Regions from separate parts of the Homo sapiens genome. Here region 2 is linked to region 1. Evidence: fine-mapped expression QTL. Tissue or cell type: whole blood. Region 1 holds a variant in brackets; the other region holds the start of a gene. Each region is shown on its reference strand, or each on the opposite one. Region 1 holds the start of KDM5C (lysine demethylase 5C). Region 2 holds the start of S100A12 (S100 calcium binding protein A12).

Region 1 (5,382 bases):
ACCTCGAGCTGCCCTCCGCCCCAGACTTCGCCGCTGGCTATCCTACTGCTTCATTCCGTCTCGCCGCCGGCGAAAACCGGCCCCGGGGCTTACCGCGGGTGGGCGGATCTTGCAAATGCCCGATTTCTCTGCGATGGGCCTGATTTTCGCGATGTAGCCAAGAGGGTCTCGGAACTCGGCCCAGCTAGGCTCGAACACCGGGCACTCCGGTGGCGGTAGGAAATCGTCGGACCCCGGCTCCATGGTGGGCCCGAGGTCTGGGCCAGGGATCGGGAGGCTTGGACCGCCCTTAAGGACTCATGGCGCCGCCGCTGTTTGAAGCCGAGGCAATGCTCGGAGGCTAGGCCCTAAGCGGGGCAGCCGCCGCCCGCCGAGGGCCTAAGGGGGCGTGTGGCCGTCGTGCTCTGAGAGTCTCAGGCTGACTCTACTGCTACCGCCTCTTCGTCCCGCTCCGTTTCTTCCAAACTGTGTGGTTGCCTCCCCACTACCGCAGCCTTCGCCACCACAGTTACCTCCCAAACGCCGCGGCCTTCAGCGCCGCCGCCGCCATCTTGGTTTGTCAGCGTCTCCCCTCCCCACACCACAACAAACCGGATCCTTCCGCGGGGTGTCCTTCCGAGCCTCGTATACGTTGCGTCACACCAAGCCCTAGGAAACCTTCATATAGTGGAGACCGAGCTAAATAGGCTGGTATGGGTTTCTATTTGGAAGGGGTTACTCAAAAGTACCACCCCGGACTGAGAGAAAATAGTTCATTGCAACGGCGGAGGAACAAGATTGTAATTAGTTTGCCGGATCGTCTTTCCGGATGGACCGGCGGTGCACGTTTAAAGGCCAGTGATGCGCATGCGCGTTATGGAGACCGGAAGAGGAGCTGGTGTCCGTGGGTGGTGGAGTCAAACCGGCACTCCCCCGCAGACCTCAACCAGGTCGCTAGCCCCGCACCAGTGTTCTCTGTCCCTTCTCCCTGGTCTTAACGGTATGGGCCGCGGAAGGCGGCTCTGGGAGCCTGATTGCAAAGGACCCCTTATGCTGGCCCGCGGGATGGGGGGAGATGTACTAGGCTCCAGCTCTAGACACTGACACCTCTGGGGCTTTGAAATAAGGAAGGCAGGAAGCTGCTCACTCCCCGGGGATTATGGATTTTTAGGATTCTGAGTCCCAAGTAAAGGAAGGAAATCTTTATTTCATCCAAGGTTACAGGTAGAGAGATGGGGTTTCGATTCTTACCCCCCAAAAGTCACTGGGAGTCAGCATTTTAATGAACGCTTTCAACTGTTCTGTATTCACTTTTACCATGTACACATTTGTGGCATATACTCCTACAAAATAAGCCTGTGTGTATGTATACTTTAACTATTGGATGTTTAGCAACGGCGTATTTATCCAGTGTCAACTGTGTAAAACACCTGTTTGCCCATTTGTGAGCCTACAGTGCACTTACCAAACATCCGTGTACTTTTATTGTATTTATTGTGTATAGCCCCTGTGCATTTGGTACCAACTGTATGTACATTTAGTCCTATCGTGTGCATGTTCCTTGAGCAGTTTCTGAATAGGTTCATTGCAACTACAGTACTTTGAATGAGTATCATCAAACCAGTACTTTGTACATATACATCAGGCATCTACTGATTGGAGGATCATCTGTGTCATTCATCAGCTGTGGACCTACTGCATATAGTTTGAACACCTACTGTGCAAATATTTGAGTACTTGCGTACATGCTGATTAAGTAATTTTGTTTTCCCCCATCAGACTATGAATTCCTTAAGGGCAGGGACCATGTGGCCTTATACATCCTTAGCACTTGGCATGTTAAGCAGTAAATGAATGTTGAGTAAACAAAAGAAAAATGAATAAATGTCCTTAGTATATATTGACTGAAAAATATGAATACTTTTTGCAAACATTTCCTGTTTAACATATTAAACATCCACTGTAAGCTCGAGGCAGATAGGGAGTGTCATACCTTCGTGCAGTTAACTGTTCCTAATCAGATACTGTGCCAATTAGGTCCATCCTGCCTACTTCAGGACTGAGCTAAGGACATCCTGGCTGAGGGAACAGGGCACACAGGTAGGAAGGAGCTCATGCCCTGGGCTCAAAAGAGTCATGCCTTGCAGTCCCACCAGCTCTGCCATTTTCTAGTTTGTAACCTTGAACAAGTCCCAACTTCTGTAACTGAAATGGGGATAATACATACCTTGCAGAATTGTTGTGTACTTGGCACATAGCAGGCCCTCAGTATCTGGTAGCTGTTATTTTTATTTCTGAGAGTCAACAACCAATATGCCAAAACTCATTAAGAATCTCCTTTGTGTCAGACACTGTGCTAGTGCTTTTGTATTTTTTTTTTTATCACCTGAATCCTTATATTACCTTGAATGTTCAAGATCTTTATCCCCACTTGGCTCGTGTGGAGACTTGTCCCAAGTGACACAGATATTAAGTGACATCTTTCTAGTTTTCTAGGTGTCAGGGGAAACCTCAGCCCCTCTCCACCAGAAACACAGGTGGATGATCCAACTGAACAGCTGTCTGGACAGGAAGCAGGAAAACTAGGCAAAGTGATGCTAATCACAGTAATATCACTAGCCTCTCACATGGATAAGCATCTAATTGCCTACATGGCTAGTTCATACCAATTATTTCCCTTAATCTTTGCAACAGTCTTCAGAAAGATGTAGGTGAATTTACCCAGTCTGTAGATGAGGAACCAAGTTCCAGAAAGATTAAACAACTTGCCCA[A/G]TGATACACAGGAAGTTGCTGACTCTGGTCAAATGCTCTTCCTGTCGTTTGCCCTCACCAGGAGTGGAGGAGGTGAGGGAAAAGGGAGCTGCTGGGGTGGGAGGTAGAGTGGTGGGGCAGGGCCCAGTCCTTGGCAATATGGGGCATGCAGGGCCTGGAGCTTGGACTGCCCATCGGGCAGCACCCCCAGGCCACCGTGGCTGTGACCGTGATGGTGGTAGTGGTGGTGGTGCGTGGAAGAAACAGATGAAAAGGAGGCAGAGGCCTGGCCAGAGAAGGGTGAGGAGAATCTAGAAGGTGGGAGAATACGGTAGATCTTAGGCCGAAGGAAGTTCAGCCTTTCCATCTAGAGGCTCAAGGAAGTACAAAGAGCATGAATCAGGAATCAGGAGGCCAGATTTTGGGTCTCAGCTCTGCACAGTCTTCCTACAGCCTTCTTTGAGGTCCTTTAGCCCAGACACACCCGTCCTAGAAGATTAAATAGAAATTATGTAGTCTTTGAAGCCAATGAGATAGAATTTATTCGTTTACAAATATTTATTAAATTTCTACTATGCACCAGCAAATTTTCTGGGCACTGGGAATATAATGGTGACCAAGACAGATGTAGTCTCTACTTTCCTGGAGCTGACATGCACCCACTGAGATCTGCCAAGTACCTCATCTTCCTGAGCCTTGATTTTCTCCTTTGTATAATGAAGCTAAATAATCCCTTCCTCACAGTGTTGTTAGGAGGATTAGAGATAATGATGACTGCCATTCATCAAGGGCCAGGTGCTATGAAGTAGGTATTGTTATCCCCATCCTACAGATGAGGAAACTGAAGCTCAGGGAAGTGTAAACTTACTCAAGTCACATGGCTAGTAAGTGGCAGGACCAGAACTCAAACCCAGGTCTGTCTGACTGCCGTACAATTCTGCCTGTAAGAGTCTCAGATGGTGCTCCCCATGTAGTAAGGCATTCAGGAAATGGGTTTGTTCCCCAAGCCATGGGTCTTGCTGGGGGACAACCGGAGTCTAGACGCTGGGGACTTAAGAATTGGGATGCATCAGGAAACTCACTCCAGGCTGGGGGCTGGCTTGGCCTCACCCATCCACCCGGGAGACAGGGTCTGACATGGAGTTGGTGCAGAGCAGTGACTGGAAGGCTCGTCTGGGCTCAAAACCACACGCACCCCATTCATGTTTTGTGGATCAACTGGGCTGACACTGACTTTGTGTCTCACTTTTTTTGGTTTGTAAAATATGATCTCTTCCAGTTCTGAAGTAGGTTTAAGCTGTTGGTTCTGATTCCTAAATAGCTCTAGAATCCATCCCCTCCTCCTTGCCATCTTCCACTCCTCCTGTGAGCCTTTTACTGTCTCTAGCCTGGACTCTTAAAAGAGCCTCCTCAAGGTATCTGTGTGAACTCATGGTTTATTAGACAGAGACAGAGAAATATCGATGTCTAGTATAGAAATATAGATGTATAGTATGTGCTTATACATATACATAACAATAAAATGATTTATCCAAAGTAATGTTAATTCAAAATGAATTATGATAGTAGTGGATTACAACTCACTGGTTAAAATAAAAATCCATGACTCCACATTGATATAAGTAAATAAAGTGAGAGAAAAGGGAAAGTAGAATTCTAAATTATATAGAAGGAATGATGGAGCTAGAAATCATCAATGGATGCTCAAACCTTTGCAAAATAAAAGAGCAAGCTCTTAAAATATTGCTGTAACACCTAGTGCCCAAATCTTGGTTTCTAAATGTCATTCTCTACTAAAAAGAACCGGGGCTCCTTGGAAGGGCTCAGAAAAAGATGGAGATGTGCCACAGGACACAGGGGCTTAGAGGGCTTCCTACTGGCCAAATCTGGGGCTGTGAACATCAAAATAAAGAATGATGTTAATGGGTTATATATAACCCATTGAGTAAAATAAACAATCATTAAGTCCATAAGGATATAAATAAATAAATGTAGAAGGGAAAGCCCTCCCTTATAGTGGAAAGCCAACTAAGACATGCCCAGGCTGGGGGCAGTGGCTCATGCCTATAGTCCCAACACTTTGGGAGGCTGAGGTGGGAGGACTGCTTGAGGCCAGGAGTTTGAAACCAGCCTGGGTAACCTAGCAAGACCTCCATCTCTACAAAAAATTTTTAAATTAGCTGGGCATGGTGGTGTGTGGCTGTGGTCCCAGCTACATGGAAGGCTGAGGTGGGAGGATCGCTTGAATCCAGGAGTTCGAAGCTGCAGTGAGCTATGATCGCACCACTGCACTGGGCAATGGATGAGACCCTGTCTCAAAAAAGAAAAAAAAAAGACATATTGAAAGAATGACGGCATTTGAAAATCACCATTTGACAGCCTCAGCCATAATAATTGTTCCAGCGAACGCTAAAACTAGTGAGTAAAATTTAAGGAGTAACAACATTTCCATTCATGTCTCCACAAGATACTCATCCACTACAACGGGGAAAGTGGTAACTTTACAGTGCAGGTACTAGATAGCCCAATTTGTTATCTGGTCTTACTTTAGCTGCTGCTGAGGCCAGCGTGACAAATCTGTTGGCAACAGAGTAACAGGGAGTGGCTGGGGAGACCCGCCTGTCTCCACGCGGTGCCATGTGCTGTGCCCAC
Region 2 (5,382 bases), not on the chromosome of region 1:
CCCTTTCCACCCCAACTCTACTTCTCTACTTTAGTTTTCTTCATATAACTTATCATTAACTACTATTGTATCAATATGATCACACCATGTCATATCATATTATATTATATCATATATACACATATATATGTATATATCATATATATACATATATATATGTTTAAAGACATATATATATGTGTGTGTATATATATATGTGTTTAAAGACAGGATCTTTCTATGTTGCCCAGGCTGGAATGCAATAGCTATTCACAAGTGTAATCATAGCACACTACGGCCTCAAACTCTTGGACTCAAGCAATCCTCTCGCCCCAGCCTCCTGAGTACTGGAACTACAGGCACATGCCATGATGGCCAGCCATACAATATATTTTTATTTGCTTGTCTATTTATTTATTTTCTATTCTCTCCCAAATAATATGCAAGCTCTAAGAGGACAAGGACTTTGTGTCTTTGGTCTCTGATGCTCAGAGAATATTTGTTGAGTGAGTGAATGAATGAATGAATGGTGGACATTCAATAAATAATTCGATAAATAAATAATTGGTGATCAAATGAACAAATGGGGCAGGAGTTCTAAGGGATCTAAATCAGACTGCCAGAAGAGCAGGGGTAAGGTGTGATCAAGTTTGGGAACCGCAGGCATGGAAAGAAAAAAGTTCACAGACACTATTCAGAACTTTTCGTGAGTGTGTTTATTAACTCTTACTCCCCACGGGCAAGGCTGGGTTTTGGTGAGGGAAAGAAAAGACCCTCATTGAGGACATTGCTGGGTAAAAAGCCTTCAGAGAGCTACCTACTCTTTGTGGGTGTGGTAATGGGCAGCCTTCAGCGCAATGGCTACCAGGGATATGAATTCTTGAAAGTCGACCTGTTCATCTTGATTAGCATCCAGGCCTTGGAATATTTCATCAATGACAGCTTTATCTTTGATATTCTAGGAAAAAAGGACAACAGAGACCTTGAGTTCAGAACCTCCACACAAGACCCTTTCTTAGGCCTCTTATCCCTCAGAGCTCGGGTTGTGAAGGCCCAGGCACATTAACTCATTAGCCAACACTGTGTTGGAGAATCCAGTGTAACAAAACAGAGAACACAATGGTCATGAACCACCCTGGAATTAACAAGGCTTGACCTGGAAGGTACTCTTCTGCTCACTCATTCAACCCCTCCCGTGCCCTGCCTCTCTCCATTTTACATATGAGGAAACAGACTCAGAGAGAGGAACTGAGTAGAGCCTTAAGTGAGTTATTGAGAGAGGGAAGCAAAGGACCTCTCCCACAGCAGCGGGGAGAGCATCCTTTGGGAGCTCAAACTGGGGCCAACCCCACCCCAGTCCTTGTCCCACCATCCTCTGCCAGGCCTTGCCACTCCCCTCAGTGCAGGGTCATGGGCAAGTTTGCAGTGAGAGGGGCATCACCTACCTTGATGGTGTTTGCAAGCTCCTTTGTAAGCAGCTGCTTCAGCTCACCCTTAGAGAGGGTGTCAAAATGCCCCTTCCGAACTGAGTATTGGTGGAAGATATTGACAATTCCCTCCAGATGCTCTTCAAGTTTTGTCATCTTCCCAGCCTAATGTTAACCTTCAAGGAAACAAGGGAAGTCTAGAGGCAGTTTCTCCCCCACCCCTCAACCTCCACTCTCCCCTCTCTTTCTGAATCAAGGGCCTAAAGAAAACATAACATCCTCCATATCTATTTTGTGGTCTCTGCTCTGTTTGATCCATGGTGAACTTCTCATGTGTGGATAGGATGGGGAGGAGAAAACATATAATACTGTCTAACGTCTAAAAAAATCAGCCTCAGTTGCCCATGTTCCATACCACCTCATCCACCGGGGTGCATAACTTGGAGGGTATTGCTTACTCAAGGTCCCTTGGGAAGGGTTCTGTGATTGGCCAGGCTGTTTGCTTTCCTCAGGTGATGGCACTATGGCCACATATCCCCCACAAATGGTCCATAACCCACCCCTGCTTAGCCATTCTTTTTTTGTTGTTGTTGTTTTGGGTTTTTTGTTTGTTTGTTTGTTTGTTTTTGAGACGGAGTCTCACTCTGCCGCCCAGGCTGGAGTGCAGTAGGGCGATCTCGGCTCACTGCAAGTTCTGCCTCCCGGGTTCACGCCATTCTCCTGCCCCAGCCTCCCGAGTAGCTGGGACTACAGGCACCCGCCACCACGCCCGGCTAATTTTTTGTATTTTTTTAGTAGAGACGGGGTTTCACCATGTTAGCCAGGATGGTCTCGATCTCCTCACCTCATGATCCGCCCGCCTCGGCCTCCCAAAGTGCTGGGATTACAGGCGTGAGCCACCGTACCCGGCCTGCTTAGCCATTCTTAAATCATGGGACTGAGTCTACATAGCACAACAAGAGCTGATCTACTTGGGTCCAAAATGCAATATCACCCCAGAGGTGCTCAGGCAAGTGGAGGGTTGTGGTTTCCAACACCTTGTGATTTCAAAGTGGTCACCTGCAGTCACTACCCTGTGGACCACCTAAGAACCCATCCAAGGAAAATGCACTTACCCCTCAATGCACAGGAATGTGGAGCTACAGCAAAAAGCCAGCAGTGGTGAAGGGCACTGAGCCAAGGAAGGTTTTATAATCAGTTCAGGCTTCATCTTAGCCCTTGGGTGAAGAAATCTCTGATTCATCTTGAGGCAATTTATGTAAAGTACTCTGTTGCTCAATAGAAGCTTCAAACCTGTGGCTTAGGCTGCCACAGGAGCAGCCCAGATTGTACCCAGACTGAATTTTGCCCTCCTGCTCAGCCTGAAACAAAATCACCCCCACTCCACCCACCCGCACAGGGGTGCCCTGAACCTTTTTTAGCCCTGAGCCAGGGCCCAGGTTTCAGGTTTAGCTCTACTCCACTGCTCCCTAATAAAAGACTAGGAGAACAAACTTTACAGCCTGAGTGTCTTGTTTTAACAGATGAGGTTACCAGCTCTTCAGTTTTGGCAAATGGAATATCAACTTAAAGATCTTTATGCAGCTAAGGAGATAGGTAGGGAGACCTCCTCCTAAGTCGTTCTGGGATGCAAAGTTCATCACTGGAGCAGAGGATCAGTTTTCAAAATAGATTCCAAGGTTTTCAAAAAAGGAGAGAGCAATGCTACTATGCCTCCCCTTTGCTTTCCCAACTTTCTAACTTGGCTGTTACAAAGACCTAGAAAGCTGGAGTAGGGTAATCATTGTGTGTGAAGAAAGTTCACCATGCCTAGGTTACTTTACCATGTTCATGAGTTCAGTAAGACAGAACATTCACACGAGTTTTAGTAAAGCAACTTTATTACTCACAGAGAGGCAGCAAGGGACAACAGATGCCCAGGATTCATGGAGAGGTGGTCCTTCAAGATTCAGAAACCTGCCCAAAATGGATTAAGTCTCATCTGTACATTCCCCATGTCGCACCAAAGCTAAGGGACATCCAAAAGCACTCTGCCCTTGGTTTATGCCTAGAGGTCAATAAGATTGCTGAGCAATCAAGGCCATGCCAGAACCTGTGCTGCCATCTACCCCACAACACAGATATCCCCCTTAGCAAAGCTAGTTCATTTCATGTGCCCACCGACCTCTCTGGATCTGGAGGCAAAAGTCTGTCTCTCCGATCCATGTGTCACCTTGACTGACACAATCTCAGTGCAACATTGTTAAGCCATTGACAGTATTTGTTTCACTAGGCCCAGGAGGACACCACCAGAGCAGGATGATCAGGCTTGTGTAAATCAATGACAATGACCAAGGTGAATCTCAATCATTTTAGGAGGTTTATTTGGCCAAAGTTAAGGATGCGTGCCCAGAGGTAGGTCTACGTCTTTCTCCAAAGATGATTTTGAGGGCTTCAATATTTGAAGGAGAAACAGTGGATATTGGGGGAAGAGGAAGAAATATTTTTTAAATGTGTCAGTAGATAAGAGACAAGTGATTGCATCCTTTTGAGTCTTTGATCAATCTTTCACTGAATACACAATTTTCATGTGGGAGCGGAGTAGAGGAAATAGTCACTTATGCCTTCATCTGGCTCAGTGAATCTGCATTTTTACATAAGATAACAAAAATAGGGGAGAGGAAGCAATCAGATATGGATTTGTCTTGGGTGAGCAGAGGGATGACTTTATGTTCTGCCCTTTGTCCCACACCTGTGAAGATAAGCTGTCAATTACACTGCCAGGGTGAAATTCAATAGAACTGTTTTAGGGTAAAGATCTTGAGGCTCACAAGGAATTTCCTTGTGGGCAAGTTGTGAGATTGGTGTATGGCTTTTTATCTTTGTAGCTATCTTATTTAGAAACCAACCTGGGTGGGGGCAGGCTTGCATGACCCATTTCCCAGCTTGACTTTTCCCTCTGGCTTAGTAAGTTTGGGATCCTGAGATGTTTTTTTTTTTTCACATCTGCCTGGAGAAGGGACTAGCCCAGGATCCCAGCCATCCAGGCAAGAGGTTGCTAAATGCGGATCACGAGGTCAGGAGATCGAGACCATCCTGGCTAAGATGGTGAAACCCCATCTCTACTAAAAATACAAAAAATTAGCCAGGCATGGTGGCAGGCACCTGTAGTCCCAGATACTCAGGAGGCTGAGGCAGGAGAATGGCGTGAACCCACAAGGCGGAGCTTGCAGTGAACCGAGATCGCGCCACTGCACTCCAGCCTGGGCAACAGAGTGAGACTCCCTCTCAAAAAAAAAAAATAGAAATCAAAAAAGCAGGAACACAGCCTCACATACAAATATTAACCTCCAATGTGAATGGCCTAAACACTGCACTTAAAACACATACCTTGGCAAATTCGATTTAAAAACAAGACCCATCCTTCTGCTGTCTTCAAGCACCTGTCTCATGTGTAATGACACCTGTAGATTCAAAGTAAAGGGATGGAGAAAGATCTATCATGCAAACAGAAAACAAAAAAGAGCAGAGGTTGCTATTCTTGAATCAGATCCGATAGACTGTAAGCCAACAACAGTAAAAAAGGATAAAGAAGGGCATTACATAGTGATAAAGGGTTCGATTTAACAAGAAAATTTAACCATCCTAAATAAATACACACCCAACACTGGAGCACCCAGATTTATAAAATAAGTACTTCTGCATCTAAGAAAAGATTTTGGCAGCCACACAATAATAGCAGGGGACAACACCCCACTGACATCAGTAGACAAATCATCAAGGCAGAAAACTAACAAAGAAATTATGGACTTAAATTTGACACTTGACCAATTAGACTTAATAGACATCTATAGAACAATGCACCCAACAACCACAGAATATATATTATTTTCATCTGCACATGGAACATACTCTAAGATCAACCACATGCTCAGTCATAAGGCAAATCTCAATAAATTCAAAAAAATCAAAATCATACCAAGAATCTTGGACCGCA

What was found. PIP is the estimated chance that this variant, and not a neighbour inherited with it, causes the effect.
Region 2: it holds the start of S100A12, and the variant in region 1 is fine-mapped to the expression of S100A12 in whole blood (TOPMed, PIP 0.97).

Annotation. Positions count from the first base shown.
Region 1 is chrX:53,224,647-53,230,028 of GRCh38, forward strand. KDM5C (lysine demethylase 5C) reads right to left here and starts at 561. Exons shown (of 26, transcript NM_004187.5): 1 at 94-561. The coding sequence starts at 243. It also overlaps a transcript of IQSEC2 not described here. RefSeq lists enhancers at 103-202, 443-822, 661-955, 833-882. The variant A/G (reference allele first, on the strand shown) is at 2,752.
Region 2 is chr1:153,373,031-153,378,412 of GRCh38, forward strand. It overlaps S100A12 (S100 calcium binding protein A12), which reads right to left and starts at 2,591. Exons shown (of 3, transcript NM_005621.2): 1 at 2,522-2,591; 2 at 1,425-1,582; 3 at 681-937. The coding sequence starts at 1,562. The coding sequence ends at 797.